Linked DNA regions of Homo sapiens. The protein of the gene in region 2 purifies or fractionates together with the protein of the main gene of each other region. This does not show direct contact. Each region holds a gene or a part of one and is shown on either strand. Other genes may lie near its edges.

Evidence for each region.
Region 1: the proteins of SORBS1 (region 2) and SH2B2 purify together in Homo sapiens (affinity purification with western blotting; 2 studies listed by BioGRID). This does not show direct contact.

The regions. Positions count from the first base shown.
Region 1 is NC_000007.14:102,288,665-102,297,829, forward strand, and holds part of SH2B2 (SH2B adapter protein 2), read left to right. Parts: intron 1-801; exon of another isoform or gene 802-853; intron 854-4,438; exon of another isoform or gene 4,439-4,523; intron 4,524-9,165. UniProt on the Homo sapiens protein: Adapter protein for several members of the tyrosine kinase receptor family. Involved in multiple signaling pathways. May be involved in coupling from immunoreceptor to Ras signaling. Acts as a negative regulator of cytokine signaling in collaboration with CBL.
Region 2 is NC_000010.11:95,550,250-95,559,414, forward strand, and holds part of SORBS1 (sorbin and SH3 domain-containing protein 1), read right to left. Parts: intron 1-9,165. UniProt on the Homo sapiens protein: Plays a role in tyrosine phosphorylation of CBL by linking CBL to the insulin receptor. Required for insulin-stimulated glucose transport. Involved in formation of actin stress fibers and focal adhesions.

The DNA.
Region 1 (9,165 bases), on a different chromosome or scaffold from region 2:
CCTGGGCCTCCCAGGGCTGAGCTTTTGGTTTCAAACTTACTTGTGCCAAGCTAAGGGCATCAGGATCGCCGTTCGTGTCATCTTTACAACAATCCTGTGGGTTTAGTGCTATTATTATCCCCACACACTTAGGGAGGGGAAGTGACTGGCCCAAAGTCCCGCAGTCAACGAGCCAGGCCTCCCAACCACTCCTCTCTGACAAGAGGCTGGCACTTCTTGCCCTGCCTACCCAGCCTGGGTTGCAAGGAATTGGGGGTTTAGGGGCTTCAGGCCTCCTGGCTGCTGTCTTCCCGGGGCTACGCTCATTCTTACTGTCCAAGTGAGGCCAGGGGACTGGTCAGAGCCCTGGGGCCTGGGGAGGTTTCTCTTCCCTGCTCACCTGGCTGGGTGCCGTTTTATGGCTATGCTCTGTCTAGGGGGATAGCAGGTGTGACCCCTCAACACGAGGTCACAGCCCACACCTGTTTGGGCAGAGCAAGGCAGGGCATCGCTGTGTGGGCGTGCAGCATCTTTTGGTTCCTCTGGGTGAAGCAGGGTTTGGGCCCCATTCTCCACATACTTCCGGGCCATCTGAGGGTAGCGCCCACCTGGGGGGTGGGGAGGACAACCAGCCAGGAGCTCACGGTTCGGTGGAAGAGACAGGCCACAGCCATGTGGTGTGGTGGAGGGGCAGGGGGCAAGGGTGGAGGTGGGAAGAGGATCAAGGGGCGTTCCCGAGGCCTCTGTGGGCTTGGGGGCCTGCCTGCTATTGGGGCAGAACAGGGGAAGTAGGCAGTGCCCAGCTGGGTGCTGAGGCTCTGTGCAGAGGACAGGCAGGAGTTGGAGGAAGAGGATGTATTTGAACTTGGATGTGGTGAGTTTGAGGTACCTGGAGATCAGCCAGGCTGGGAGTTGAGCTCAGAGAAAGGCCCAGGGAAGCTTTATTAGCACCTGTAGTCTCCAGAGTTCGGGGATGCTCAGATCTTAGGGGTGCCACCAGAGGTCTCAGGAGGCACTGGTATGAGTGTCCTGGAAAAGCCAGAAGGCAGCTGGGTGGGATGAGTTGGTGAGGGGCACTAAGGGGGTATCCTGCAGGTTTAGGGGGCTGGGCCAGGGCCCATGTGAGAGTTATGACACTGGGGGAGTGGAAGGGGCTGAGTGTCTCAGGCCAAGGCTGGAGATGGGAGGGGGGAACCTCTGCTCTGCAACCCCAGAAAGGCAGGGTGGGGTGGGAGTAACCAGGGCCAGTGCAGCTGGAACCAGCTCAGCCTGTCCTCCACCTGCAGAGCCCATCCAGGAACTGTCCAGCACTGGGTGCTCCTGAAGGAGGCTGAGTCTGCCTCTTGAGCCCACAGGCCCTGGCTTAGCTTGTTGTCCTGGCCCCCACTCCCTGCTTATCTGACCCGCACTTCCTGCAGAGCCCAGCTGTGGATTCCCCCGCCCCCCCACCCAGCCGCTCAGAGTGCCCCATCCTCTAAAGGTGGTCATTTCCTTTCCTGAAACAGGGATTCAGTCTTCCCACTCTGCCCTTGGAAGCGGAGTTCCCCAGAAACAGGTCTCAGAAAGGGACCAGCCTGGAACTTGGCTCCATACCCCCCTTTTTTTTTTTTATTTTTTTGAGACAGAGTCTTGCTCTGTCGACCAGGCTGGAGTGCAGTGGCGTGCAACCTCAGCTCCCTGCAACCTCCGCTCCCTGCAACCTCCACCACCTCTGGGGTTCAAGCAATTCTCATGCCTCAGCCTTCTGAGTAGCTGGGGTTACAGGTGTGCACCACCACGCCTGGCTAATTTTTGTATTTTTAGTAGAGATGGGGTTTCACCGTGTTGGCCAGACTGGTCTCAAACTCCTGACCTCAAGTGATCCGCCCTCCTCGGCCTCCCAAAGTGCTGGGATTACAGGTGTGAGCCACTGCACCCGGCCTCCCCTCTTGTCCATTCTGCAGCCCTGGACCCTCCCACCTGGCGTCTGACACACAGTGGGAGCTCACCACTGCGTGGTGGCCAGAGCATGGTGGGTAGTCACCTCCCTCCCCAGAACCCCATTTCTTCATCTCTGCAATGGAGAAACAACTCTTTCTTACAGGGAAGATGTGAGGGGAGAAGGGTTTTAACAGGGGCATGGCCCACTGAAATGTGGGTTCTAGAACGCTGACCTTGGCCACATTGGAGGCTGGGTTTATGTGTTGGGGCAGTGGGTACCTCTGCAGCTGCCTGCCAAGAGCAGTTGGAGGAAAAGGGAATGAATAGAGCTGTGATTTTTAAACAAATTGCTTATTTAATCTTCATGACAGCCCCTTAAGTTTAGCACTGCTGTCACCTCCATCTTAACAGATGGGGAAACTGAGGCTCCAGAGTCCAAGGGGTCATTTCACTGGGTAGCAAGGCAGCTGGGATCCAAACCCAGACAGTCTGGCTCCAGATCTCAGACTTTTAACACTGTCCCAGCATGTCAAATGACCAGAGGTGGCCATAGGGAGATGCCCAGGCAGTGGGGCTCCCTTTGCTGGGGAACAACTGTCAAAGGCAACTGTGGGAACCCCTGGGACTGAGGGTCTGCAGACGCCGGTGCCAGCAGGGCTTGTCAAGCTTGGGATGTCTGCAAAAGCCGGGGGGCTCAGCAGAAGGGCTCCCACCCTCCCGTGGCGGTGGCAAAGGCTGAGCGTGGCATGAGAGGCCTGGGGTTGTCCTGGGTGCAGGGCTGTTGCAATAGCTGCCTCCAAGCGATGCTGCTCAGGCCGAGCCTTGGACTAGAAAGTTATCTGCACGGAAGAGCAGCTAGGGAAACTAATGCTCAGAACAGCCAAGACCACTAGTACCTAATCACCCATACAGAGGCATACAAGTCCCAAGGGCTCTGAATCCACACCTGTCCCCATCGCCAGCCAGAAGGCCCCCACCCATCCACTCTGCAGCAAAGTCACAGCAAGTTCAAGGGTTAAGTTAAGACCAGAAGCCATGCCTACTTTGCCTTCTGCCGGGGTGGTGGAGTGAGCTCAGATATTCTGGGAGGGGAGAGTTGGGGAATTCCAGCCACATCTGGCAGGAGGCCCTGGTTCAGAGCCTACCTTGTGGGGATGTGGTCTCTGCGGAGGTGAGCAGTAACACGGGCTTGAAAACCAACGCCCACGTATTCAGCAGTGAAGCAGAGACTGCGCTGTGTGCTGTGTTCCTGAATCTGCAGGGGAGAGAGAGACTCATACCTAGTCAGCGGGTGGGAGTCACTCCAGGCCGGAGGGATGACCTGCCCAAAGAGCATCTGTGTCCTGCCCAGGGAGGGGTGCAGAGAGGAGGCTGCAGGGGTGGAAGGGACTGCCCCACCGAGGCCAGGAGGGTGCTTGAGGAACAGCAGGATTGAAGGAGCCTATGTTGTCCAGAGTGAGGCTGAGTGGGCCAGGCCAGTGCTGCTAAGGTCCTGAGGACCCCTAAGGGCAGTGGACATGAGAAGGCATGGCTGGGCAGGTTTTCTGAGGATGGTGGAGGTGAGCAGAGTGAGGCCTTGTCTCTTGTGTCAGGCAAGGAGGTACCCCAAGAAGAGGCTGCATGAGACCAGCCTGGGCAACATAGTGAGACCCCCATCTCTACCAAAATATCAAAAAATTACCTGGGACCGGGTGCACTGGCTCACATCTATAATCCCAGCCCTTTGGGAAGCTGAGGTGGGCGGATCACCTGAGGTCGGAAGTTCGAGACCAGCCTGGCCAAGATGGTGAAACCCTGCCTCTCCTAAAAATACAAAAATTAGCCGGGCTTGGTAGGACGCACCTATAGTCCCAGCTACTCGGGAGGCTGAGGCAGGAGAATCGCTTGAACCCAGGAGGCGGAAGTTGCAGTGAGCCAAGATCACGCCATTGCACTCCAGCCTCGGCAACAGAGCAAGACTCCGTCTCAAAAAAAAAAAAAAAAAATTACCTGGCCATGGCGTCTTGTGCCTGTAGTCCCAGCCACTTGGGAGGCTGAGGCAGGAGAATTGCTTGGGCCCAGGAGTTCAAGGCTGCAGTGAGCTATGTTCAAAGTGCAGTGCACTGCACCCCAGCCTGGGCCACAGAGTGAGACTTTGTCTAAAAAGAAAAGGCCTCAGTTTCCCCATAGCGAATGGTTCATTGGGGGGTAGGTGGCACTGCCCACCCCAGGACATAGGAGAGAACCCTTAGTTCTGACCGTCTCCCCCTTCATGCACTTGGTTCTCTGACTGCTGCTCTGAGGACGGAGCTAAGTGAGGGTGCAGGAGGAAGGGGGGGTCTCTTGGCAGTGGGGCGCAGCCTTTTGAGGTGCTGCATAGCTAGTTTGACCTGTGGGACCACTGACCATCCCTCCTCTTCCCGGTGCTCCTGGCCTCCTGTGGCTGGGATGGTGCTGGGGAGGAGGTGGGGGGTGCCAGCTGGAGGTGGGCGGGGCTCCTGCCTCTCCCCGCCCCCAGGGCCACCGCCCACTGTGCCGCGCATCGATTGGTCGCGGGCCCATTAGGCGGGGCGGCGAGTCCGACTCATAAATATTTTAAGGAATGACCCGGCCCTGGGGTGCGGAATTGCTGCGCGGGCGGGGGCTGAAGACCGGCTTTTTTTTTTTTTTTTTTTTTTTGGTCCTCCAATTGTCAGCGCTATTTTTACCGCCGGAAAGCCGCCGCCCCCTCCCCCATGCCGGCTGGACCTACTGTCTAGCCGGGCTGGTGGCTGGGGTCTCTTGTCTGGGTTGCTGGTCGTGGGGTTAGGAGAGGCCGTGGCCTGGAAAGGCGATGAGCAGGGACTCCATTAGACTTCCCCTGCCCTCCTCGCTCCATCCCCCAGCACCAAAAACCACTCTGAAGCCCCCATCCCATCAGAGATGGGGAAAAAAAAAACACATTTTTTCAGGAGGAGAAGGCAGACAGCCCAGCTGAGCCTAGAAAAACCGGAGGTGGGGGGGTGTAATGGATGGGGGGAGGGTGGTCTACCCGCCCAGTGCTCCGAGGAGGGCCAGCACCACAGGGGGCCCTGGCTGGGCTTCCTTTGTCTCCAACGCCAGTCCTCAGAGAAGCAGCCTGTGAGGGGGAGAGGCAACCCCCTACCTGTCCCTAGTCCCAATGGAATGACAGCCCAGTCTTCAATGTCCAAGGCCATCACTTCTGCATCAAAATCAGGAGCCCCTAGAAGCCACACACAGCTCCAGCAATCCCATTTTACTGATAGGGAAGTGGAGGCACCAAGAGACACAGGGCCCGGCCCAGGATAGAGTCCAGATCTCCCAGAGCCCAGTCCAGCACTGCCTGGCACCAACTCAGCTGGTCTGTTTGGACACCTTGGGACCATAGGAGGAGAGCTGACCACCAAGAGAGTTAAAGACCATAGGGTCTTGGAGATCAGAGGGGGAGAGCAGTATAGGGAAGTTTTCCTGGGAGAAGAGAAGGTTTTGTTTCGGTTTGGTTTTTTGAGACAGAGTCTCGCTCTGTTGCCCAGGCTGGAGTGCAGTCGTGCAATCTCAGCTCACTGCAGCCTCAACTTTCTGGGTTAAAGTCCTCCTGCCTCAGTCCCCCAAGTACCTGGGACTACAGGCGTGTGCCACCACACCTGCCTAATTTTTGTATTTTTAGTAGAGACGGGGTTTCACCATGTTGCCCAGGCTGCTCTCGAACTCCTGAGCTCAAGTGATCTACCTGCCTCGGCCTCCCAAAGTGCTGGGATTACAGGCTTGAGCCACCACATCCAGCCAGAAGAGAGGGTTTTGCACGGTCTAAAGGGAGGGGAGATGTTGAATAGTCGGAAGAGCAAAGTCCCTAGAGAGGGCTTGAAACACCAACCTTGGCAGCACCAAGGTTGGAGGAGCTCCCGCCCTGCCCATGCCTGCACATGGGTTATAACATTGCAGACACCACCTCCTGTGCCATCTTGCCAGTGAGTGGTCAGAAAGTGAGAAGAGTGGGCTCAGAGGTTGGGAGTGTGGTCAGTGTCACTCACTCAGGGAGCACCCACGGGGTCACGTCTTGAGCCCAGGTCAGCCAAGCTCCCTACATGGGGTCTCCTCCCCAGTTCTGGTCCCAAAGATGGGTGGGGACAGTGCACTCCTGCCCCTGCCACAGCCAGGCCCCCTTCCCTGTGTCTTGCAGCCTCCCCTCTACAGAGAACCATGTCCGGGCCTCCCTCTCTCCATCTGTAGCCAGGTGGGGGCCTCCCTGCTGGCACTGCTGTTTGGAGACTTATACCTCTAGCTGCTCAACCTGCTTCCTCTGCATCCGGGGCTGGACCTACTGAGGGCTTCTGTGCCAGGCATCAGGCCCACAGGCTCCTGGGTGGCCTGCAGGGTTAGGTAGGAGAGGTCAGGGCAGTCCCAACCTCCCAGTGCCTCCCAGGCCAGTCCCTGCCTAGGACCTGGCCACACCTGCCATGCCCTTGGAAGATTCCTCTCTAAGTTCCACTCCCACTCCAGTGAGGGCCACCTGAGACCCACCTGCGAGAGCCTCCCCCAGGGCCCTGTCCCCCATCTCTGTGCCTTCTCCCTACCAAGGGTTCCTCCAGCCAGGAGGAAGAGCTGGGGGCGACAGGGATTGATGTCTAGGACTCGGCACTGGGGCTGACTTCCTGCCTGCCGCTGCCTGCCCCATGTGGGGGCATAATCATCTCACTCAGGGACCCCACACCTACCCTTCCCAGGCTGCCAAGTCACTGGCTCTGAGCCCCCTGGGGGTCCTAATGGTATAGAGAGAGAGGTGGCCACCGTCAGGAGCACTAGCCTACTGGATAAATGGATGGGCTTGGAGCTCAGGGACAGGGTTTCATGGGTTCAGCTGTGGCCCCACCCCCACCCCAGGAAATACCACCCCTGCAGGTCATGGCCTGGGCCTGGGCTCGTGACCTTCCCTGGAGGCCATGGTGGTGGTGGTGGTGGTGGCAGGTGTGTTCCCGTCTCCACCCCTCAGGGAAGAAGCAAGTTCCAGGAGCCTGGACTTTTGCCCTGCGCACTCTCTGTGTCAGATGGGGAGACAGCCATGAGGACAGACACTTGAAGTACCCTATAACTGGCACCATGCAAGAGAGACAGGCAGGAGGAGACTGTGGGAGCTCAGAGGAGACACTTGTGCTGGCCTGGATCAGGGAGAAAGGAGGGGTGTCGGGAGGCTTCCTGGAAGAAGTGGCTTCTGGATTAATTATTGAAGTGTGAGTAGGAGTTAGGGAAGAAAGGAGGAAGCACGGGGCAGGGAAAAGGTCAGGCATGAGCAAAGCTCGTGGGTTCCTCAGTCCCCATCCTTCCCCCACCTTCGTGAACTCTAACCACCACCACCACTACCCAACTGCCAATGTCCTGATAAGTCCTGCCCCCAACTCATTGTTCAGGCCCCCAGCACCCTCTTTATTTTCTTTGCACTCATGAAGCCCAACGCAATAACCACCTCTTGAAGGAAACCTTCCAAACTCCCGACTCCCCTCCCCCAGTACCAAGGCAGGAGTCTCCTAGGAGACCGCTGGTTTGGAAACCTGTCCTTGAAGCTAAGCAGGCTCAGCCGGGAGCCCTGTTCTGTCCCTGGGGCTGTCCCTTGGTTATTGACTGCAGATTGATGGCGAGGTTGCCCCAAGGAGAGAGGGAATTCCCACGGTGCCCTATGGCCCAGAGGCCTCGCAGATGATCTCACAGAAATGGGGCAGCTATTTTTACCTGGCATTTAATTACATGGTTTGGATCCCAGAGGAGAGATGAGATGGTGATCCCAGGAGCTGCGAGGGAGGGGCATTCCGGAAACTGTGGGGACCCTGGGAGGACAGGCGAGGGCATGATCCTCTAACTCATTTCCTTGGAAGGATGGTCGCTTGTCCCCCAACACTAAGCCGGCTCCTTAGACAGGGACTCCCCAGGCACTACATCACCGCACTTTATCACTATTGGTAATTTTCCCCCTGGCTTGGATGGGGGCTGTAAGCACACAGCAGGTTGGACCTGTGTCCCCAGAGGCAATGGCAAGGCCCCCAGGTGATGGGCTGGGCCCAAGCCATGCAGTTTAGCCATCCAGAGCTGTGAAGGATGGAGGGGCCTGGGAATAAGAGGATGAAGCTGGGGTGAGGAGACAGCTGGGATTCCTGGATTGGGGATTCAAAATCGGATTTGAATGGGAATTCTGGGGGAAGCCAGATTCCAGAACGTGGGAATGTAAGTAGAAGCGTGCAGGCCATTGTGATGGAAAGAAGCAAGGTCTTCAATGTCCGTACAAAAACTTGGTCCCTTTAGCCAGGCATGGTAGCTCTTGCCTGTAGTCTGAGCTACTCGGAAGGCTGAGGCGGGAGGATCGCTTGAGCCCAGGAGTTGGAGGCTGCAGTAAACTGTGATCTCGCCACTGCACTCCACCCTGGGAGACACTGCAAGACTCTGTCTCAAAAAAAAACAAAAAACAAAAAAACGCTTGGTTCTTATCCACAGCTTTGCTTTCCAAGGCTTCAGATACCCGTGGTCAACAGAGGTCTGAAAATATTAAATAGAAAATCCCAGAAGTAAACATACAAATACAAATGTAAATTGCAGGCCAGTCTGAGTAGCAGGATGAAGTCTCAAACCATCCCGCTGTTCTGCCTGGGATGTGAATTATCCCTTTGTCTGGCATATCCGCACTCTGGATACGACCCGCTCGCCACTTAGGAGTTGTCTGGGTTATTAGATCCAAAAAAAATGTAGCGGGCCAGGTGCAAGTGGCTCGTGCCTGTAATTTCAGCACTTTGGGAGGCCAAGGCCAGAGGATTGCTTGAACCCAGGAGTTCAAGACCAGCCTCATCAATAGAGTGAGATCCCATCTCTACACACACACACACACACACACACACACACACACACGCAGTATACAGAGGTTCAGTATTAGCCAGTTTCAAGCATCTGCTGGGGTTCTTGGGACATATACCCCTTGAACGAGAGGGAACTACCATATTTGATCCACACTAGGAGGAGACCCCTCAAGTCCTGGAGTCACTGCAGACCTGGGCGAGAACCCTGGACCTGTCTTGTCACTAACAAGCTGTTTGTCCTTAGGCCCCAAGTGAGGGCTTAGGCGGTGACAGCTGTGACATGCCTGGTGTGCCAAACTCATTCATTTGTTCATTCAGTCAGTGTTTCCCAAGCGCCTGCTGTATGCCCAGCACTGAGGACACAGCCGCTTCTAGGACTGGCAAAATCCCTGCCTTGTGAAACTGGCATTCTCGGGGGAAGGGGGTGGAGGGGACACACAACCAAGCAACT
Region 2 (9,165 bases):
CAAAACACCACAGTGGCTGCCTTAGAAGAGACACGTAGAGAATCCTAGCACCGTGGCTTGCACACAGCAGGTGCTCAATGCAGAGAACTGAATCAAACCTTGACCAACATCTCATTTTAAGGCTGGGAAAACCAAGGCCCAGATAGGTTAAGGGACTTCTCAAAGTGACTCAGGTAGTTACTGACAGGGCTGAAGACAGCAACACTCTGTAACACTGTCTCCCTCCCAGTGCGTCTTATCCTCCACTGCATGGGGAGAATAGGCAGGATCTGCTGCCTATTATTATGTCTATCTCAGAATAAGCGACGGATTTATTTTTGCAACACTGTATGTTTGGGTGTCTTGAAATCTGATGACTAAATGTACGCATATCATCCTAGGAACGGGCTTTCAATCATTTAACAAACACTTCTTGAGAATATACTCTATATCAGGCACAAATTTAAGTGTGTGAATGAAGAAATGAAACAAACTTTTGGTCAAATCAGAGAGCTGAACACCCATGTTTATCTCTGCTCTCTTCTGGACTCCCACTAAAAGGACAGTAGACGGATGCATTTCTTAATGAAAAAAGAGACCCCAGCAGATGAGATATGTCAACAGCAGTGGAGAGCTGACCACCATGCAGTAGCTGATTTAGGTTTCCGCATTGTCTGCTCTGCTAAGTGCAAGCAGAGCAGGAGCCACTAAACAAGTGCCCAACTCATGGCACAGAACACAAAGACAGTTCAGGAAGTGGAGGCACCAAGGACTCTAAAGGGAAAAGCAGGGTAAAGCTAAAAAGAAGGGTGCCTGCCTGCAAGTTGGTACAAAGAGCAGTCAGACCCAGGGTCCCTCTTGCAGTCTGCTCAGCCTGGTGATTTCCCTGCCTCAGCTAGCAGAAGGTGGAGATCCACTGATCAGGTAACTTACACCAGAGATACAGCCAAGGGAGGGACACAGCTGAGGGAGGTAGAGAGATGGGAGAGAGGGATGGCAGGTGGGGGCAACTTTCAAAAGACCCAGGGATTGAGTGAAAGTCTGCATATCAAACAGACTAATACCTAGCCCCTTTCCCCATGGAGGCTCCCAGAATGCAGGAAGGCCAGGCTGTTTACCACCCCACCCCACCCTACCCCACACCCAGGTAAAATCCTCTCCAAGAAAGCCCTATCCAGGAAAGCCCCAGGAAAAAGATCTACCGGCGCTGATATCTAGGCTGCTCCAGTAGAGAAAAAGGGGGCTCTCTGCTGGGTCACTCTACAATGAAGTTAACGACTCCCTTCCTTGTGGCACTGATGCCCAATCAGCATTTCGGTGTCCATTCTTAAAATATACATAGACAGTCAAGGATCAGCATGCATGGAAGGATAGCTGCAATGGAAGATACAGTAACCAAAACAAATGGAAAAAGGGACTTGGAAGAAACAACATCTTCCAAGGGACAGCAGGGAACAGCAGAAAACCATAAAAAAAACAAAAACAAACAAACAAAACCCTTAATATAAAGGAATTTACTGTACCCATGAAACAAGAATAGAATGTCATCTAAAAAAGAAAAGCAAGTATTCAGAGAACTAGGGAGCTCTTACAAAGTAAAACATGCAAATATGTTCCACGTAAACACATGAAAGCACAGTTAAAAATGGAAAAGAGTTGAAGATAAAGCTGAAGATAGCTCTCTGAAAGACAAAAATATAATAAAATGAAAAAAGGAAATAAAATGTTTTAAAATTATAAACTTGCTCCAGGAAGTCCAACATTCAGCTAATAGGCATGCCAAAGACAAAACACAGAAAATGGAGAAAATGAAATTATTAAAATATATCTAATTAAGAAAATTTCCCCAAACTGAAAGACGTCAATCTTCAGATCAAAAAGGCACACACCGGCTGGACGCAGTGGCTCACACCCGTAATCCCAGCATTTTGGGAGCCCGTGGCGGGTGGATCACCTGAGGTCTGGAATTTGAGACCAGCCTGGCCAACGTGGTGAAACCCCCATCTCTACTAACAATGCAAAAATTAGCTGGGCGTGGTGGCATGCGCCTGTAATCCCAGATACTTGGGAGGCTAAGGCACGAGAATCGCTTGAACCCGGGAGGCGGAGGTTGCAGTGAGCCGAGATTGCACCACTGCACTCCAGCCTGGGCAACAGAGTGAGACTCCATCTCAAAAAAAAAAAAAAAAAAGGCCCACACCAAAGACCCAGGCCAATCATTTTTAAAGCAAGGAGATTTCAAATACAGGAAAAGAGAGAAGATCCCAAAAACTTTCAGTGAGAAATCAGGTTATCCATAAATGATCAAGAATCAGAATGGTATCCGAATTTTGATACCAATATTAGAACCTAGATGACAGTGGAATGATGGCTTCAAAATTCTAAGGGAAATGGCTTTCGACTTCAAATTCTAGATGAATCAAATCACCAATCGAATATGAATGTAGAATATGAACATTTTCAGACCTGTAAGCTTAAAGTGATCAACTTCCACAGACCCTCTCTCAGAAACTTGTGGAAGAATAAATCAACAAAGGAAACAGGATCCCACCCAGGATAAGGTGAGGGAATTCCCAGGATGAGTCATGCCACAGGCCTAGAGGTCAATGGGCAAGAACAAAGGAGACAGAATGGAGGCCTATAGGAGGGAAGTCTCCAAGCGGGCGTAAAAAAAAAAAAACAGTAATAAAATAAAAAGGAACAAGCGCAGGCACGGTGGCTCATGCCTGTAATCCTAGCACTTTGAGAAGTTGAGGAGGGAGGATTGTTTGAGGGCAGGAGTTAGAGACCAGCCTAGGCAATGTAGTGAAACCCCATCTCTACCAAAAAACTTTAAAAATTAGCTGGACATGGTGGTGCCTGTAGTCCTAGCTACTCAGGAGGCTGAGGCAGGAGGATCACTTGAGCCCAGGAGGTCAAGGCTGCAATGAGCTACAATCGCACCTCTGCACTCTAGCCTGGTGGACAGAGCAAGGCCCTATCTCAATAAATAAATAAATAAATAGGAACACATGTTATAAAACAAATGTCTTAAGATGCTGTCAAATACTTTGAGAATTAGCAATAAGTACATAGAAACTAAGTAAATAGAAAATGTAAGATAATTATTAACTCAAAAAATGTACAAGAAAGAAAATATTATAGTATACTATATGGCTCTGTCATGAACACTATTTACACAGCCAAAATAATGTAAGCACCAAATATCAATGTAATCAAAAACTGTGATATATCTATAATGAGAGGATAGGGAGAAAGGGAAGTATTGGGGGGCAGAGGAGAGGATCTAATCCATAGTAAGACATCAAGACATAACATCTAAAAGTAACCTCTAAGCTGGGCATGGTGACTCACACCTGTAATCCCAGAACTTTAGGAGGCCCAGGTAGGAGGAGTGCTTCAGGCCAGGAGTTAAAGTCCACCCTGGCCTCAAGCAGGGTCTCAACATAGCAAGACCCTGTCTCTACAAAAAGAAAAATAAGGAAAAATAAAAATAACATCTAAAATGGACAATCAGAAAACAGCATTGTAAGCAGGTAACAATAAATATGATAGTAATATCAGGAGAAACAGCTCAGTGCATTAGAAGTAACTGTTGTAAACAGAGTAACAGCAGCCCCTCAAGGATGTCTATATCCTAACTGCCATGCCTGGCTAATTCTTTGTATTTTTTGCAGAGATAAGGTTTTACTATGTTGGCCAGGCTGATCTTGAACTCCTGGCCTTAAGTGATCCGCCGGCCTCAGCCTCCCAAACTGCTACGATTACAGGAATGAGCCACTGCGCCCAGGCAGCCTTTATATTTTTCTAGTAGTATTGACTTTTTTTTTTTTTTTTTTTTGAGAGGGAGTCTGGCTCTGTTGCCCAGGCTGGAGTGCAGTGGCACAATCTCAGCTCGCTGCAACTTCCGCCTCCCTGGTTCAAGTGATTCTCCTGCCTCAGCCTCCAGATTAACTGGGATTACAGGCGCCCGCCACCGTGACTGGCTAATTTTTGTATTTTTTTAGTAGAGATGGGATTTTGCCATGTTGGCCAGGCTGGTCTCAAACTCCTGACCTCAGGTGATCCGCCCACCTCAGCCTCCCAAAGTGCTGGGATTACAGGCGTGAGCCACCACACCCAGCCTATTTGTCTTTCAAAACTCTGTGCGGGGTGGGGGTGCACAGTGGCTCAGGCCTGTAATCCCAGCACTTAGGGAGGCCAAGACAGGCAGATCACTTGAGGTCAGGAGTTCGAGACCAGCCTGGCCAACACTGTGAAACCCTGTCTCTACTAATAATAAAAAAATTAGCTGGGGGGGTGGTGGTCTCCTGTAGTCCCAGATACTAGGGAGGCTGAGGCAGGAGAATCGCTTGAACCCGGGAGGTAGAGGTTGCAGTGAGCTGAGATCATGCCACTGCACTCCAGCCTAAGCAACAGAGGGAGACTCTGTCTCAAAACAAACAAAAAAGAAACTCTCTGTGTACACACACACACACACACACACACACGCGAAAGTTTTATACAAATTAAAATTTAATTTAAAAAGAGAAGAAACACAGACTCACTCTATTCCCAGAACTCACAATATGGGGGAGGAAACAGACAAGGGAACCAGCAATATCAACAGAAGTAGAAAGCTGAACACAAGAAGAAAGGCATCTCTTTTTTTGTTTGTTTTTTTTTTTTTTGAGATGGAGTTTCGCTCTTGTTACCCAGGCTGGAGTGCAATGGCGTGATCTCGGCTCACTGCAACCTCTACCTTCCGGGTTCAAGTGACTCTCCTGCCTAAGCCTCCTGAGTAGCTGGGACTACAGGCATGCGCCACCACGCCCGGCTAATTTTTTGTACTTTTAGTAGAGAGGAGGTTTCACCATGTTGGCCAGGCTGGTCGCGAACTCCTGACCTCAGGTGATCCACCTGCCTCGGCCTCCCAAAGTGCTGGGATTACAGCTACCGCGCCCAGCTGAAAGGCATCTCTTTAAGATGTGAGGGGAGTCTGAGGGGAGAAGGCATCAGCCAGGAAACGCAGAAAAAGGCCTTCTGGTGAGGGAACCAGTCCTGGTGGGGGGTGCAGGGGGGCCTGGCCTTTGGGGACGTGGAGTAGGGAATGACCGGGCATCTGGTGGTTTGGCAGAGCCAGCAGGAAAGCATGGAGGGGTGGTTCTCAGCACCAGCAGGTTTGATGCCTACCCTATCCCCGGCTTCTCCAGTTGGGGTATGAGACTGATATGCATATTTACAGAGGGCTGGTACAAATGAGGGCCCACAATAAACACATTTTCGTAGAACGTCAATTGTATTCAACAGTAAAGCAACTTAAATACTTTTATACTAAAACCAGTACACATATATTACAGAGAATACAAACCTAATGTGACAAGGTGACTTCTTGTTTGCAAGGCCCACTTTAGATACTAAAGTACTTGCTGACCACTGAGCATCAAGAGTCAATCCTCTCTGTAACTAATTAGAGTCAGAAGAAAATCATAAAGCGGTACAGCATCCATCCATCAAAGAATCCGGGAACTTTACACCAGCAACTGTCGGTGGGTGCCCACCCTCCCAAGGTGGGCAGAAGACATACCTTGGGTCCCACTCAACACTAATCAGAAAGTTAACAAGCATCTCATTCTTTTCCAAAAGGGTCTGGGTCCTGCTACAGCCAGTTAGGTTAGCTCAGCCTGAGGAAACAGAGAAAACAACGATGCTAATTCTTCCTAGATATACTCTCTAGGCCATAGCCCGCCAGCCCCTATTCTAAGCAGTACCGCAGTCACTGAGAAGAGCCCCACCTCCACTATCAGCACCCCTAACCCCTTACAGTACAGGCCTCTGTTACAGAATGCATTAAAGACACTTTTTCCATGGAAGGAAGTCTAGAAACAGGGTACATCCCTTGAGAGAGGGTGTCCCTTGTGGTCCACAATACAAGGGTGGAAACTTTTTTCTATTGTTGTGAAAACAATAACCGCATGACAGAGACCTGGGAACTTTTTTTTCTATAAAAAGCCACTGCTGACCACAGAAGAAGTGGGGGGATAAATCAATGGAAGGCCACACAGAAGTAAAAAGCAATTTAGTTGGATTTGGTTCATTTGCCTCTTTTTTGTTTTGTGTGTAAAACACATACACATTCAAAAAAGACTGAATTCAACTGATTTTATTTATTTATTTATTTGGATGGAGTCTCACTCTGTCCCCCAGGCTGGAGTGCAGTGGTACAATCTCGGCTCACTGCAACCTCCACCTCCCAGGCTCAAGCAATTCTTTCTGCCTCAGCCTCCTGAGTAGCTGGGATTACAGGCACCCATCACCACACCCAGCTAATTTTTGTCTTTTTTTTTTTTTTTTTTTTTTGAGACGGAGTCTTGCTATGTCGCCCAGGCTGGGGTGCAGTGGCGCGATCTTGGCTCACTGCAAGCTCCGCCTCCCAGGTTCATGCCATTCTCCTGCCTCAGCTTCCCGAGTAGCTGGGACTACAGGTGCCTGCCACCACACCCGGCTAAATTTTTGTATTTTTAGTAGAGACGGGGTTTCACCATGTTGACCAGGCTGGTCTTGAACTCCTGACGTCAGGTGATCCACCTGCTTCAGCCTCCCAAAGTGCTCGGATAACAGGCATGAGCTACCTTGCCTGGCCCTCGACTGATTTGAAATGAAGAACAGAGAACATGAAATTTTAATGGCAATAGATTAAAAGAAACTACAAAGATATATTGTTGATAATAAAGAAAGAATGAGGGAGGAGGGCAAGGAGAAAGAGGTAAGAAAAAGAAATGGATAGTGGAGGGAGATGTAGCAAAAGAAGAATGGGAGACAGCAAGATTCAGGGACGGGTCCACATGCCTAACCGCACACAAAAAGGGGGAGCCACCAAAGGACCCACAGAGACACTTTCTAGGGCTTGAAGAGTTAGCCAAAGTCAGTTACATTGTTCATGGCCAGCTGTTGGCTGTAGCTCCAGACCTTGAACTATTATCACCTTTTATCCTTGCCTTTGAATGGTTAGTGCTCTGGTCAACCACTGTTCACAGCTCTTTAATTGCTCATTGAAACATTCTGAGGCTTAGCTTAGGTCACAAGCCAGAAGCTCCCCCAAATGAGCTACAATTCAGTAAATCATTCATCTCCAAGTATCTCCTCTGAAAAGGGAGTATTCGAAACACTATCTCATAAAACATTCAAAGCACCGATGAAAATCCAAGGAGAAAATGCTGCTTGCACTGAAACGAAATCCATGGAAAAGTGTTCTGAGTTTTGCATTTACAAAAAAACCGGGACTTCAGCAGAACTGAGTCCCACCTCAGCATCAGCCAGCATCACCACCCGCACACCTGACTTCCCACATGTCCACATTCTGCATGCTCCCGTGGATCTAAAGGCCTCAGTTGGTCCTGAAACTAAGCAGCCTCCATGACACTTTGCAATCTGAGGGTCAACAGGAGCAATCCCAAGGAGATTCCAAGACAGTCTCAGGCTGAGGTTGAACTCTCAGTCCACCCCCCCACCCCCCATCCTAGGCTACCAAACCTCCCCTCACTTCACCCCAAGGGCTGCAGAAGAGCTCAGCTGTTTCAGAGACAATAGAGCCTCCCCCTTTCAAGCTCCATCCTTTTCTCCTCCAAGCTTGGTTTCTGTGTTTTTCCCTTCCCCACATAATCTGTCCCCAGCCTCCTACTTTCTCGTCTGTTTCTCCAATCTCTCTCTTCTTGTGCTCCTATTTCCTCCTCATGTTTCGCTATTCCATCTTAGAATCATTTCTCTCAGAGGAAGAGGGGGCTTAACAGATACATATAGGCCGGGCACCGTGGCTCAAGCCTATAACCCCAGCATGCTGGAAGGCCAATGCAGGCGGATCGCTTGAGTCCAGGAGTTTGAGACCAGCCTGGGCAACACCGCAAAACTCTGTCTCTACAAAAAGTACAAAAATTAGCTGGGTGTGGTAGTGCGTGCCTGTGGTCCCAGCTACTCGGGAGGCTGAGGTAGGAGGACTGCCTGGGCCCAGGAGGTCGAGGCTGCAGTGAGCCATGATTGTGCCACTGCACTCCAGCCTGGGTGACAGGTGAGACCCTGTCTCAAAACAACCACCACCACCAAAAAACAAAAAAACCCAGATACATCTGGAAACAAGATCTACAATCTATCCCCCCGAGTTCCCACCCCAGCTCCACATCTTGCTAGCTGTGCAACCTTGGAAAAATGGCCAAACCTCCCAACCCCTCAAATTCCTCAGTTTGGCGGGGAAGGGGGAGGAACATGGCAATCACAGAGGTCTTTTATAACTCTCATCTTCTAGATAGGTAAACGTTCACCTGTGTAACCATGAATAAACCAGCAAGTTAAACATCCACAGGGAAAGAGAACAAATTACAGAAACTCCCTTTCCTCAGCAATCTATCATCCCACCCTCATCTCCCACAACCACTCACTCTGGGGTCTGTGCCTCTCACTCTGGACCGTTCTAGCTCTGAATTGTTTACATACTTACAGTAAAACCTCACAAATCACACTAATCAAGGAAAAGGTAGATGTGAATCCAACAGAAGCCTGCATCCTAGAATGCTTCTTCTATGCCATTGTGCAATACTTTGAATTTATTATCAATTTAGCAAACAGGAAAGAACCTGAAAATGCCATCACAAACTGTGACTCTAAGAACAGTGGAGTTGTCAGGAACCCTGGAAGACCTTCTGCCCTATCATCCTCCACTTCACCAGCAAGGACACAGGCCCAGAGAGCAGAAGCCACTAGCCCAAAGCCCAAAGATTGGTGGCCAGGACCAAAGCTAGCTGTCCTGCCTCTGGTCCAGAGCTTCTCCACCAAAGCTTTTTGAGACCATCCATGCCTTTCTCCTAGAGACAGGTCAAATCCTAAATTACCATAGAGTGCCCTCTACAGCAAATCTATCTCCACATCCAGGGAAGGGTCTGGAGATAAGTTAGGATGACCTGATCATTATCAATGCTGCACAATAAAAACTTTCTTTCCTGGCCCTGCCCTTTCATTGTTTACAAAGAAAACCCTAGACTCTGCTATCTGTATTGAACTCTTATTTTAGAGAAGGGGAAAGAGAGGAACAGCTGAACAGTGCTTTGTTCTGCCAGGAAGAATTTGCTCATCCTTTCCCATAACTCCTACCCACTCCCCAATATGCCCAATCTCTTCCGAAAAGTATACAGAAACTCTCCAACTACAACAAATGAA